Linked DNA regions of Homo sapiens. The protein of the gene in region 2 purifies or fractionates together with the protein of the main gene of each other region. This does not show direct contact. Each region holds a gene or a part of one and is shown on either strand. Other genes may lie near its edges.

What was found.
Region 1: the proteins of ADAD2 (region 2) and CRTAP purify together in Homo sapiens (affinity purification with mass spectrometry; one large-scale study listed by BioGRID and IntAct). This does not show direct contact.

What each region holds. Positions count from the first base shown.
Region 1 is NC_000003.12:33,120,514-33,124,318, forward strand, and holds part of CRTAP (cartilage-associated protein isoform 1 precursor), read left to right. Parts: intron 1-3,805. UniProt on the Homo sapiens protein: Necessary for efficient 3-hydroxylation of fibrillar collagen prolyl residues.
Region 2 is NC_000016.10:84,194,120-84,197,934, reverse strand, and holds the end of ADAD2 (adenosine deaminase domain-containing protein 2), read right to left. Parts: coding exon of another isoform or gene 3,714-3,815; exon of another isoform or gene 3,629-3,713; intron 3,547-3,628; exon of another isoform or gene 3,494-3,546; coding exon 3,353-3,493; exon of another isoform or gene 3,210-3,352; intron 3,003-3,209; coding exon 2,955-3,002; intron 2,891-2,954; exon of another isoform or gene 2,867-2,890; coding exon 2,741-2,866; intron 2,675-2,740; exon of another isoform or gene 2,670-2,674; coding exon of another isoform or gene 2,640-2,669; coding exon 2,489-2,639; intron 2,406-2,488; coding exon 2,238-2,405; intron 2,121-2,237; coding exon 1,891-2,120; intron 1,809-1,890; coding exon 1,565-1,808; intron 1,289-1,564; coding exon 1,168-1,288; intron 1,066-1,167; coding exon 961-1,065; 3' UTR 769-960; downstream 1-768.

The DNA.
Region 1 (3,805 bases), on a different chromosome or scaffold from region 2:
GGCAGTTAGTGGCAACCTGGACTGTTAAAGAAATGTCTCTCCATAAGCAGCTGCTGATAGCTAAGGACCTCTAGTGATTTTTGGTGACATTTGCTGAATATTATGACAATAGAAATGATTGACTTTTAGCACAAAGTGATCCATTTAATAATGATATTTTGTATGCCGTGATGATTTTAAAAGCCATGTTCCCTTTAAATGCTACATTTTAGAAATATGGTCATTTAATTATTTAGTTTTAAGAGGGTAGATTAAAGACATATCTTGGAAATCATCTAAAATGACCAGGAACACAAGAAATAGAAACATAAATCTCCAGTTTTGATGAAATGAGAAGGCATATATTTTTATACACACTTGCACACAAACGCACCCTAAATATATTAAGGTAGAAAATGAAGACGAGTTAGGAAGGCTGATGTGACAGAGTAGAGGACACTTAAATCTGCGCATCTACGAAGAAGAGTTTTGATGAGAATTAGTCGTAAGAACAACAATAAGAAAGAACGATCTCGCCCTTTTGAGCACTCACTATTGTCAAGGTCTTCTGGAACTCAGGCACTGGGGGCCTGGGTTTCAAGCAAGGGCAGGGCATTGTTGAAAATGGGAATTTGGCTGGGCACAGTGGCTCATGCCTGTAATCCCAGCACTTTGGGAGGCCGAGGCGGATGGATCACCTGAGGTCAGGAGTTTGAGACCAGCCTGGCCAATATGGTGAAACCCCGTCTCTACTAAAAATACAAAAATTAGCTGGGCGTGGTGACTCAGCATGTCTGTAAACCCAGCTACTCGAGAGGCTGAGGCAGGAGAATCACTTCATCCCGGGAGACAGAGGTTGCAATGAGCTGAGATTGCGCCACTGCACTCCAGCCTGGGCGACAGAGCGAGACTCTGTCTCAAAAAAAATGAAAGAAAATGGGGATATGTGGAAAATATCCACTAGAAGTTATAGTTCCCAAGGCCTGACCACAGGGTTTTCTGTAGAGTGATCAGATCTCAGGCTCACTTTTTGACTGCTAGGGAAAATGTATGTGTGGAAGTCTCTTTTTGGGGGTATCTGTCAGTTTTCCAGGGAAGACTTCACCAGCCTTCTGCAGGGCTGGTGGGGTGCGCATACTCCTCTGCTGGTGTCTGAGAACCAGTGTGGGGAGAGGGACAGGGTCACCCAGGTGAGTAGGAATACTTCACCTGCTTCCTGATTTTAGCCTCATGCCTCCACTTGGCCTCTGCTACGTCTGGTCCCTGACTCCTCAGCCTTTATGGGTAAAGTCTCTAGAATAAACTGCCACTCTCTGGTGAAGAGTGGCTTTGGGAGATATGATCTCTTGGGTGGGTGGGTAGGTGCTGGGAGCGGACCCAGGACCCCAACAGCCTGTTCAAACTTGCAGCCCTGCTTCTAGCTCCATGCCTTACCCCAGCCTCCCGTGGTCCCTCATGCCTGCGCATGCCAATGGGACATATAGCTTGCTTCCCCTCTGGCCCCTCCTTTGTGACTATTTCACTTCCTGCCTTTCCAAAAGTTGTTGAAATCTCATCTGCTGCTTGCTCCCTTCCCATTCTCCCATAAAAGCAATTTATGCCTTTCATAGTCTTCACTGTTGTTTTCATAGGGTTTGGGGAACGAAGCCGAGTGCGTGTGGTCAGTGCCCTGGGCTTATCTGGAATTCAGCTAGTCCTGTTGGCCCTCACTGGAGCCCTTTTGGGGTGGCTGTGCTGCCCTCCTGTGTGATCAGGGGCCTCCTCTTTCTGCTTGGTCCTTCTTGCTGCTGCTGCTGCCCCGCTGCTTCTGCAGAACCAGCTGTCTGGAGTTGGCTACTTATTGACCCATTCTTCAGGAAAGGCTCCTTCAGTTCTCAGCCTGTCTTATTTCCAGGGCATGTGGCCTGCCCAGGAGGTTTAAGAAAATCCACCCTCGGCCAGGCGCGGTCCTCATGCCTGTAATCCCAGCACTTTGGGAGGCCAAGGTGGGTGGATCACGAGGTCAGGAGTTCAAGACCAGCTGGGGCAAGATGGTGAAACCCTGTCTCTACTAAAAATACAAAAAAATTAGCCAGGCGTGGTGGCAGGCACCTGTAATCCTAGCTACTCGGGAGACTGAGGCAGAGAGAATTGCCTGAACCCAGGAGTTGGAGGTTGCAGTGAGCTGAGATTGCACCACTGCATTCGAGCCTGGGCAACAGAGCAAGACTCTGTCTCAAAAAAAAAAAAAAAAAAAAAAAGAAGAAGAAAATCCACTGTCTTTACCTGAGGCCTTAAGCTTGGTGAAAATTCTAGGTCTAAGGGGTGCCCTCAGATACCACCATTCCAGAGCAGCTGAGAACTCCAAATGGAGGGTCCCATGCTTATTCAGGGCCTGTCCTGGCCTCTGCAAGTTAGCAGGTTTTGTGTGTATCCAGGATCTCTACTTATTTCTTGGAGACCAAGCTACTTCCTTGGTCCTAGTTTATTTCTCTCTCTCTTTTTTTTTTGAGATGAAGTCTCGCCCTGTTGCCCAGGCTGCAGTGCAACGGCACGATCTTGGCTTACTGCAACCTCCACCTCCTGGGTTCAAATGATTCTCCTGCCTCAGCCTCCTGTTATTTCTCTTCTAATCGAGTCTAATCAACAATTAGCAGAAAGTCCTTGAAGTTTCCACTATCTGGCATGTGGTTGCCCTTCCTAGTAACTAGTGCTGATGCATGGTGGCACTTCTGTTTAACTGCATTGTCGGAGGAAGTGGGGTGACAGACACCTGCTGATATGGTTTGGATCTGTGTCTCCACCTAAATCTCATGTCCAGTTGTAATCCCCAGGGTTGGAGGTGGGGCCTGGTGGGAGGTGATTGGATCATGGGAGTGGATCCTTTATTAATGGTTTAGCACCATCCTCTCTGTGCCATTCTCATGATAGTGAGTGAGTTATCATGAGACCTAGTTGTTTAAAAGTGTGTAACACCTCCCCGCTCTCTTCCTTCTTCTCTGGCCATGTGAAGTGCCGGCTCCCTGTTTGCCTTCTGCCGTGATTGTAAGTTTCCTGAGGCCTCCCCAGAAGCAGAAGCTGCTATGCTTCCTGTATAGCCTGCAGAACCATGAACCAATTAAACCTCTTTTATTTATAAATTACCCAGTCTCGGTTTTTTTTTTTTTTTTTTTTTTTTGACAGAGTCTCGCTCTGTCACCCAGGCTGGAGTACAGTGGCACAATCTCAGCTTACTGCCACCTCCGCCTCCTAGGTTCAAGTGATTCTTGTGCCTCAGCCTCGTGAGTAGCTGGGACTACAAGCATGTGACTACACCTGGTAATTTCTATATTTTTAGTACAGATGGGGTTTCCCTATATTGGCCATGCTAGAGGTATTTCTTTATAGCAATGTGAGAACAGACTAATATACCTGCTCTCAAACTTACATTTTTCTTTTCGTTCCATTTTAAAAACCAGTTTTATTGAGGTACTATTTATATACAATATATTTATCAATTTTAAGTGTATAATGCAGTAAGTTTTGACAAATACATCCAGTCCTGTAACTGCCATCATAGTTACGACATAGAATATTTTCATCACCCCTGAACAATTTCCTCTTGTCCTTTTGTAGTCAAGTTTTTGCTGTAACCCCTGACTTCTGGCAGCCACTGATCTGATCTCTGTCATAGTTTTCCCATTTTCCTTAATTCAGATTATTATCAAGGGCCTGCTACTTTTTGAATTGAACTAAATAAGAAATGTACCCATCATAAGCAAAGTAGAAAAATCTAGATATAAAGTAACTCACTGATTGACTTCTTCAAGGGCCAGTGTGGCTTCTTCAGAGCTAATGAGAGCTAGCT
Region 2 (3,815 bases):
ATAGTGCCCATGCTGGTGAGGTTCCAGGTGTGTGTGCGAGTGTGCACGCACACATGCTTTTAGTGTTACCATCTTCTCTCCCCATCCAGAGTCAACAGAGTGCCTGAGTGCCATGTGGCCTTACTATGCTACCCTGGGGGAAACGGAGAGAGAACTGCCGAGCCCACACAGGGCAGGAGCACTGTCCCTCTCCATGGTGGAAGACGCAGGCTCTAGCGGTCCAATGCCTCGCCCAGGTCCAACAGCCGGGCGGCCCAGGGAAAGCACTGATGCTGCTCATGCCCTCCCCACGCCCTTCAACATGGGGCTGCCCAGACCCCACAGCACCCTCGAGGGCCAGGGCAGCTAAAGCTCTGACCAGGGAAGGGTGTTCTCTGCCCTCCCACACATCCTGGGGGCCCAGAAAGGCAAGGATTTGGAGCCCCAATAGCGGCCAGAGGACAAAATGCTCACACATCCAAGCAGCCTGCCCTCCCACCCTTTACAACACCCGCAACCCGTGGCCTCCGTGGTCTCCTCCAGCACACAGGCTGGAAAACAGGAGGAACCAGGGGAGGTCACCTCCCCTCCTAAACCTGCCTCCAGCCCTGTGAACAGGGGCGGGGGTGACAATTCAGTGGCTCAGTGAGAGGATCCAGGTGGGAACCCAGTGAACACAGGGCCTCCCAAAGGAGGAGTGAGGGGCTCTCTCCGCAAACAAAGGGCCCCTGGCCACCCCAACACATAAACACACACACACACACACACACAGCCAACTACACACACAGGAACCAGAAATACTTCTTTATTCAAGCCCAAACGTGCAGCAGCCGCCTCCCAACCACAGCAGGCTCCTCCTTCCCTCCAGCCCCAGTTTCACCCCGCACAACCCATGTTCTCCCCACAACGCTCCTCAGATAGGGCACTCCCCCAGCAGGGGTACAGCTTGGCTCCGGGACCTCGGTCCCGCCGAGGCTGGCTTCAGTTTCTGAATTTGCCCACCAGTGGCTTCGAGGGCCAAGCCCCCAGGCCCTGCTGGTCCAGGAGGAGAGACAGCTGCCTGCGAGCCTCCTGGTAGGGCCCAGCCTAGGGCGGGAGATGAGAGGTGGGGTGAGAGGAGGTACCTGCAGGGGGCAGGGACTGCAGGGCTGGAGAGGGACCGGGACGGGGGGAGGGTGGGGAACCAACCTTGGCAGCCTCGTAGGTCTTCAAGGCCAGGAGGTAGGGCTTCCCCACAGCCCTGGCCGCCTGGTGAAAGGCCCGGAGAAAGGAGGCCTTGCAGAGACGGGAGGGAGGCCCCAGGGCGGCACTGGATGAAGAGAGGATACCACTGAGATCAGAGAGATACAAGCTGGACCAGCAGGCCTGCTACACACCTCACACTACCTCCTCTCACACTGTGACAATGTCACAGGACTCACAGGGCAGACAGAGGTGTGGCCACCACTACGGAGCTAGGAAGGGGTTGAGCGAAGGGGTTGAGCGAAGGGGTTGCGCTGGGATTAGACTGAGGTGAGGAAGCTCATGCATGAGCCCTCCATCACCAGCACTGCTCCACAGCCCGGCCCCAGGGGGCCCTTCTCACTTGGCCTTCACACGCCCGGTGGCCACATCCACAACCTCGATGCCAGGGTCCCCCAGGCTCCAGTTGAGGCTCAGGCCACGGCAGGTGTCAGGGGTGGGTTCGGAAGGGGCCACCGGGGGCCCTGCAAACAGGTGCAGGGCGGTCCGGACGTAGGGAGGTGGCAGGCATGGCCCCAGGACACTGTCCAGGCAGGGCCGGGTGTGGATGGCCCTGCTCAGAGTCGGAGGGTCGTGGCATGAGTCAGCTGCAGGGCAGAAGGGACAGGACAAGGTGAGTGACCTCCCTGCCCTCCCTTCTCACCCCCCCAGCCCTCACCACGTGCTCACCCAGGATGAGGCTGGTGCTGTAGAGTGGGGACACCAGGTGGGCCAGCAGGGCACCACCCAGCCCCAGCACGGCCCAGCGTGCCAGCTTGTCACTGGCTGACAGGCAGCCCACGTGGGTGTCACAGAGCGAGGGCGCCACGTAGCACACAGGCTTCAGCTGCCCGAGCACATGGGCCTGCAGGCGCATGGGTGGGCTGTGCGGGAGGCCACCTTCCGAGGTGGGGGGCAGGCTGCGGGCCGGGTGGGGACAGACATCAGCTTCAGGGCTGCTCTTCTGACCCTGGCCCCCACCCAGCAGCCCAACCGAGGGAGCCCCATCCCCCGCCTGCCCCGGGGGCCCTGCATACTAGATGTCACGGGCCGCGCCCTTGGGGGTGTTGCTGATGTAGAGGTGCAGGAAGACGCGGGGCTTGAGGGTGAATGGGGGTCCGGGCCCTGGCTGGGGGGCCAGCACGGACTGCTCCTTGCCCTTGGGGCCCCCCTGTGTGGCCAGCAGGAGCTGCCGGAACAAGAACCTAGGAGCGACAGGCACAGGGTGGTTGGGAAGACCTTGTCCTGGCGAAGGCTGCTATCAGGCGCCCACCCCACTGCCCCTCACCTCAGCAGGGCCCTGCGGGCGATGACCAGGCCATGGCAGTCGTGGAGCTGCTGGCCCGAGAACTCCAGCCAGCCAGCACAGCAGCTGCTGCCGGTGCCCAGAGCCACCAGCTTGTAGATCTCCTTCACGTGGCCCCTGGCACGCGGGATCTCTGTGCAGGAGGGGGCAGAGACGGCCCAGCCTAAGGCAAGGAGCTTGAGGGGGCCCTTCCCAGGGGGCCGGGGCCAGGGCCAGGGCTGGGGCGATCCCTACCCCTCTCCAGGATGACTCCAGCCACAGTCCCCTTACAGGCCCAGTATGGCGAGCGCTCGTCCAACAGGAGGTCAAAGCCGGCGCTCACCAACGCTGCGCAGCGCTGCTCATGGGTCAGGATGTTCTCTGCGCCAGGGCGAGAGACTGCAGGTAGAAGGGGGCCCACGCCTCTCCCCTCGACACTACAAGCCTGGGTCCGGGAATGCTCACCTACCTACGCTCAGGGGGGCCAGTGGAGGCCGGCTGGAGGTCTGGGGGGACTCTGAAAGAGGCAAGGAGGGCGGGCTGGTGTGGGTGCCAAGGCCCACCCTCCGTCCCTCAGGAAGCCAAGGAGGCGGGGAGAGGAAGTTTTCATCTTCCAGACACAGGACATTACACGAGCTGCTCTTCTAGCGGTCCCTACCCCCGGTGTCCCCAGAGGACGTGAAAGCAGGGACCGGCACATGTACCCCGCCCCAGCTCCCTGCAGGTGACGTCCTGATGCTCAGATGGTTTGTACAGCAACCCACCTCCTGCTCACACGCACAGCCACTTCCGCCTCCCCACGGGACTGCCAGCCTCAGTCCTCTTGTCCCCAGCTGCGGCTCAGCTGCCTGGCCCTCCCTCCATTACCTGGGTTCTCCAGCTGACTCCGGATGTAGCAGAGGGCAGAGAGCGCTGCCTGCTGTTTGGCCTCCGTCTTGCTATTCGCAGTGCCCGCAGGGCAGACCACCCCATCCAGTTCCGCGCTCACCGAGAAGGGGAAGCAGGGACCTGGGGAAGGAGCCAGGTGAGGAAGCAGCCCCCTGGCCTTCGCCCTGTGACAGGTACCACCTCTGCCTCCTCCTGACACCTGATATCGAGGACGGTCAGAATAATGAGACCCTCACCACCCTTCCCTTCCTCCAGCAGGCTCCATCGCCACCCCATGCCGCGCACACCCTTGAGTGCCTCTGCAGGCTGTGACCCATCGCTGATTCAACCAAGTCCTCACCCAACTCCTCCACAGCAGGGATGCGTGACTCCATTTCACAGATGAGCAGAAACGGCAGGCGGTTTGCCCAACTTGAGTCAGGACCCAAATCCAGGTCCCCTC